2 separate regions of the Homo sapiens genome follow, and region 2 is linked to region 1. The links come from fine-mapping of genetic effects on gene expression. A gene starts in region 1. The other region holds a variant in brackets. All regions are shown on one strand. Distances are from middle to middle.

Region 1 (3,008 bases):
CGAGTGCTCCAAGGCCTCGCCTCTACACTGCGGGCAGGACTCACCGCACCCATTTAACCCTTACCTGACTTGAGACGTCGGTTACTGTGAAACGAAAACGGGCAGACCCGGACTTTAAAGTGCAAATTCTCCGGTCCGCGTATCGCAACCACCCCCCTCCAGGCTCCGCCCAAGTCGGAGCCACGGCTCAAGTCCCCGACTCTCCTCCTTTGTCATGGCGGATCTGTGTCAGGGAGCCCAACCTACTGCAGAGTGTTAATTCCTCCCCCCGACCGGAGCCAGAGGGAGGAGCAGCCCGCGCCCCCGCCCAAGCCGTGGGGGGGGGGGAGAGATGGGGAGCGAAGCCGCCCGACCCCGGGGCAGAGACGCCACAGCAGCCCGCAGAAGCGGAACCACTACCAGCCCCGCCGCGGACACACCCCGCTCTCCCACCCAGCGCCTTCCCCGCCACCGATCAGCGCCGGTGACCGTGTACAGCGTCTCTAAGGGACCGACAGCTGCAGGTGGGGGAGGGGACGAGAGCCACACCCAGCCGAGCGGGCCACCAGCGGCTATGCTCAGGCTCACCCGCCCCCAAAGCAGGATATGCGTCCCCAAACCGAGCGCAGGGACCCTCCAGTTCTAGTCCATCAAGCACGGGAGCCGACTGCGGGCTCACCACCCTGTTCTCTACCCCGACCTGGACTTGCAGCCCCCGTCCACACCTCCCCCGCCCGTTCACAAGGAGCAAAAAAAGTCAGACCCATCCCCCACCCCCACCAGGAAAATTCAAGTCCTTCCTCCCACCGCGGAGCCCAGGAAATTCAGCTCTAGGTCCCAGGCGAGCCCCACCCCAAAACCTCACCCCGCAGTGGACTCCCCTCCCGCCGGCGCGCAGCCTCGCCCCGGTCTACCTGGCGGGCGCCGCCGCGCCAGGCCTGGGCTCCGGCCCGCTCTCGGCCAGGCCTTTCCCTCGCGCTTGGGTCCCCGAGGCCCCCGGCCCCTCCCCGCCGCGCCACCGCCTCCCGGGGTGGGGGAGGGCCGGGTCCCGCCGCCGCAGCGCCCAGCGCGGAGGCTGCGCGAGGGGGAGGGAAAGGAGGGGGCGGCCGAGGGAGAGGGGAGGGGGCGGCCTCACCTGCGCCACTGCGATGCCCGCCGCCGCCGCCGCCGAGTCATTATCTCGGGCGGAAGCGAGAAGGGCGGCGAGGGAGGGGGTGGAAGCCCGCAGAGACAAGGGTGGGGATGGATCGCGGCCGGCGGCGCCCCGGCCATGCCTCGTCCACCTTCGGGAGCCGGCGACAGGGAGATCCCCAGGGATCTCGCGTGTGGGCGCCCTACCCACCCCCGGGGGCAGGACGGGGGAGCGAGCACCGATCGGCGCCGGGGCGTCGATGCGGAAGCAAGGAGCCGGAGGCGGCCGCTAGCCGCCCTCCCGAGCCCAGCGGAAGAGGAGCCGCCGCCCGTGTCCGCTGAGGAGACTCCGCCTCAGCCCGGCGCCGCCACCGCGGGGCGAGTGGGGATGAGGGGACGGAGCGAGGACGGCTCCCACGCGTTCGGAAGGCTGGCCTGGGACAGGAAGCGAGGCGCGGCGGCGGCCGGGTTCCTCACCTGTGTCCGGAGTGGGTGGTGGCGGCGGACGGACGGGCTCAGCAGTCTCTGGGCGGCGGCGGCGGCAGCAGCGGCGAGGCTGAGACTCTGTCCCTGGATCTCGCTGCTCACAGGCTACAGCCGCTCCGCAGACACGGGGTTTCCTCCAATCACCAGCCCCGGCAGCAGGGGCACCACACGCACGATGACGTCAAACGCTGCTATGGCAACCGTTGATTGGTGCCCACAGCGATCGGGGCCCCGCGTAACCGCCGCTCCCCGGCGCTCGTCCTGCCCGCCCGCGCTGGAGGGCGAGCGGAGGCGCGCGCGTCCTCGCCCGCAGCCGCCACTCCTCCCACCCCGCTCGGCTTCCAGCTCCTCTACGCTTGTCCCGAGTGCACCTAGGGCAGGAGGCTGCTTTTTTCCTTTTCCTCCCCAACGCAAATCCCCCACTCCTCGCCTTCCCTTTGGGTCCCCAACGCCCTCTCTCTCCCTCTCCCCTGCAGCCTCTGCCGGCCCACTCTTCCTCTCAGCCGGCGGGAAGGCGTTCTCTCCCTACCCCCACCTTAGCTTTCGCTCAGCCCGTCTGCGCTTGCCCCAGTCACTCCCTCTGGAAGGGGCTCCCGTTCAGCAACATCCGGGACCTTTCACATCCCCCCACCCCTCCCCGAGGCCCGGCCCGCCCCACCCTCCGTGCTTCGCGGTAGTAACTGCCCCAGGGCCGTCCCCGGGCAGGATGACAAGGGTGGCTCGGCGGCTCCGGCATTGTGATCAGGACTTGCGGGGCGGGGGCCCCGGGGCGGGGGCAGGGCGCGGTCGCACGGCAAGGGAGGGTTGTGTGTGGTGCGCTGCCCCCCGCCCCGCCCGCCGCTCCCCTTCCCCGGCTGGGCCGACCGGGGCGCGCGGCCCCTCCCGGCCTCCCTCCCGCCGCCGCGGCTTTACCTGCTGGCTCGGGGGAAGCGGTCCTAGACCTTTTATGGCTCGGAAACGGGAGTGAGGCGTCCAGCCCCTGAGTGTGGCTGAGTGATGGGGAGGCGTTCCAATCGAGAGCGCGGGATCTGCGCTCGGTGACTGCGCGAGGGGACAATGGGTGGGCGCCGAGGTGGGGGCGAGGTGGGCCGGGCCGGGCGGAGCCGGCAGGAGGTGAGGCCTGGAAGGAGGCGCGGCCGCTTTAGGGAAGCCAGAGTTCCGAGGGGAAAGGACAGCCTTCTCGGGCGGAGGGCTGGAGCTGGTCCTGGCAGCCTTGACCCGGAGACAGGCAGTCAGGCGTGACCGCACGGACCCGTTTCTCGTAGGCTAGGTTTTCCTACCCAAATAAAGCTTTCACGTGAAGACCTCATACTGCACATGACGATCATTACCTTTTTATCTCCTAGAAGCAAGGTTTGAGGGACGTCGTAGTCCCCAGGGTTCCAGCTGGCGGTGGGAGTGGGCCACAGGCC
Region 2 (2,500 bases), 27 kb before region 1:
GTGCTCAAATAATAAAGACTGCTAAATTTCTACGTAACAGGTAAAATACATACTGTCTTTGCAAGAGAGCAGGCTTTCTCTGGGGAGTTCAGAATCTCATAATAGAACACAGAGAAGTTAAGGGCCAGACCCAGTCTGATAGGATGTGTTGGTTGCATTTCCTTTTTGCTGATTTCAAAAGCTTCTTGGTATGCTTGTTGTGACTGATCGACAATCCCTGGATAAGACACACCAAAACGTACTGAGATAAAGTGTGCATTATATCTTCACCCCTCAAACCAAACCTTTAATATCTCACATATCCTTTGAAATACTAACCTGTAACAGCTTAATATTTGTTAATTGAACAAGGTCCTTTTTTTTTTTTAAAGGGAGCTTTCTCCTGGTACACACTAGCCATTGATCAATGTCAAGATAAAACAACTTTATAATCTCATTATTGTTATGTTTTTAAAAAATTGACGAGTTTTGACATCCCAGACCCAAGCAATCCTCCCACCTCAGCCTCCAGATTAGCTGGGACCAAAGGCTTGCACCACCATGCCCAGCTAATTTTCAAAATATTTTTTGTAGAGAGAGATGTTGCTCAGGCTGGTCACTTTTCTTAAAATCTTGAAAAAACATCCCTGTACACAATATTGGCTTTTCAGAAAGCATTTATTTTAGAATAGCAGTATGAGGCAGTAGATGTGTATTCTCAGAACACAAAGAGCACTGCTACTCCTTATTCGGCACTCTAAGCAATTCAAAACAAGACATTATGTACGCTTCAGAGACTCTTCCTCACTATGTTATCTTATACAAGTTCAACCAACAGGTTTAAAAACAGCATACCTTTCTTGTCATCACCAGCGGCAACCTCAGCCAAGTAACGGTAGTAATCTCCTTTCATTTTCAAATAGAAGACTTTGCTCTCTGCTTGTGAAGCATTGGGGATCAAGAACTTTTCCAAAAGAGACTTAAGAAGAAAAGAAACAGACATAGTGAGAATAAAACATTTACAAAACTGAAAGAACTTGCATTTCTTAAAGAACAAACTATAGCCTAAGTTATAAAACTTAAACACCCAGTCACTGTCAATACAATTGTGAATGCAGCTGGCACATGAATTTGTGGTTTAAAGCAGAATGCTTTGGGCAGCAATA[T/C]TTTAAGTTTGAAGTTAGTGTTCAGTTTATTATTTGAGGACAATAAAATTGAACATTGGTCCCTGACAATGTTATCTATTTACATGCTGACTTCATGAATGTGGGGCATGACCGTTCACATTTAGGAACATTTTCTAATGAGCTGGCAAGCTTTCCATCTGAAGTTTCATGTGGTCATGACATGAAAATAGAAAGAACATACGGGATGAACCTTTTGGGACTCTGGAGAAATGACTAAAGCAGAAACCAATAATGTAAGACACTTAAGGAGTCCATGCCAGAGAAGGAGGAACAAAATAAACTTCATTTATAACAACACAATTCAAGCAAACCTCACAACAGATAAAAAAACCGTTCAAAAGTTTTATTTTTCCTAAAGACAGTGGTAGGAGACTTACAGATTTTAAAGAGCAGACCTTTAATCTCATTGAAGTCATTTTCGGCTAGTAAGATACACGATTACAGATCATCCCAGACAACAGATAAAATTAAAACATCATCCTATAAAATTCTGTCTAAAACTACTATTACAATCTGAGTCATTTGATTAGGATTTTAAAAATTACACTCTTTAACTGATTTTAAAGCAAAAAGATTAGATCATTGTGTTGGGGATGGGAAGAAGTCTCAATAAATGTGTAATTTTTTTCTTTCCAGTTAAGGGGGAGAAAAATAATTCTAGTAGTAGAATTAGGTAAACATTAAAGCAAAAAAACCCCAACCACCCATTCTCACTACCCCACTTCCTTTAAAGTTCAAGTACACTCTGAGAATCAAGGTGAAGTCAATTTTCAGCTGAGCTAAATTCCAAATCCATTCTTACAAAAAAAAAGTATTAGTTTATATAGCACCTACTTATATATAAAATATAAATTTGAAAAATGCTTTTAAATGGTAACTCCAACTTTTTGTTTACCCATTATGTTCCAATGCTGGGTAGGTGAACAGTTTTAACCCAACTTCTTCCCCCAATTTTTTTTTTTTTTTTTTTTACAACTCAAGCTACAGATAACCCAGATGAAGTGGCAGTAGGGCCAGATTGCACTGTGCTATATAAAGAGGTTAAAGGTGAGAAAAGTCAACCTGAAATGATGTTTCCTGCAATTATTAACCGATATTTAAAAATACTGGCCTGAGGCCGGGCACAGTGGCTCATGCCAGTAATCCCAGCACTCTGGGAGGCTAGGGTGGCAGGATCACTTGAGGTGAGCCTCGTCAACATGGTGAAACCCTGTCTCTACTAAAAATACAAAAATTAGCCAGGCGTGGTGACGGGCGCCTGTAATCCCAGCTGAGGCAGGAGAACTGCTTGAGCCCGAGAGATAGAGGCTGCAGTGAGCCGAGGTTGCACCACT

Which allele goes with the higher level. Alleles are on the strand shown, and positions count from the first base shown. SD is a standard deviation of normalised expression in the study named.
With allele T in place of C in region 2, the expression in whole blood of the gene that starts at base 1,679 in region 1 is higher (small effect, 0.23 SD a copy in GTEx).

Evidence for each region.
Region 2: its variant is fine-mapped to the expression of YWHAZ in whole blood (TOPMed, PIP above 0.99). The same link has a PIP of 0.9 or more in T cells, anterior cingulate cortex, blood mononuclear cells, monocytes, non-classical monocytes and regulatory T cells.

The regions. Positions count from the first base shown.
Region 1 is chr8:100,950,342-100,953,349 of GRCh38, forward strand. It overlaps YWHAZ (tyrosine 3-monooxygenase/tryptophan 5-monooxygenase activation protein zeta), which reads right to left and starts at 1,679. Exons shown (of 6, transcript NM_145690.3): 1 at 1,588-1,679. RefSeq lists enhancers at 58-917, 544-623, 1,776-2,634, 2,914-3,008 and silencers at 204-423, 814-1,583, 1,814-2,073, 2,094-2,773.
Region 2 is chr8:100,924,082-100,926,581 of GRCh38, forward strand. It overlaps YWHAZ (tyrosine 3-monooxygenase/tryptophan 5-monooxygenase activation protein zeta), which reads right to left. Exons shown (of 6, transcript NM_145690.3): 3 at 835-958; 4 at 54-217. Among named protein-coding and RNA genes, the nearest start is that of YWHAZ, 27 kb to the right of the region's middle. The variant T/C (reference allele first, on the strand shown) is at 1,146.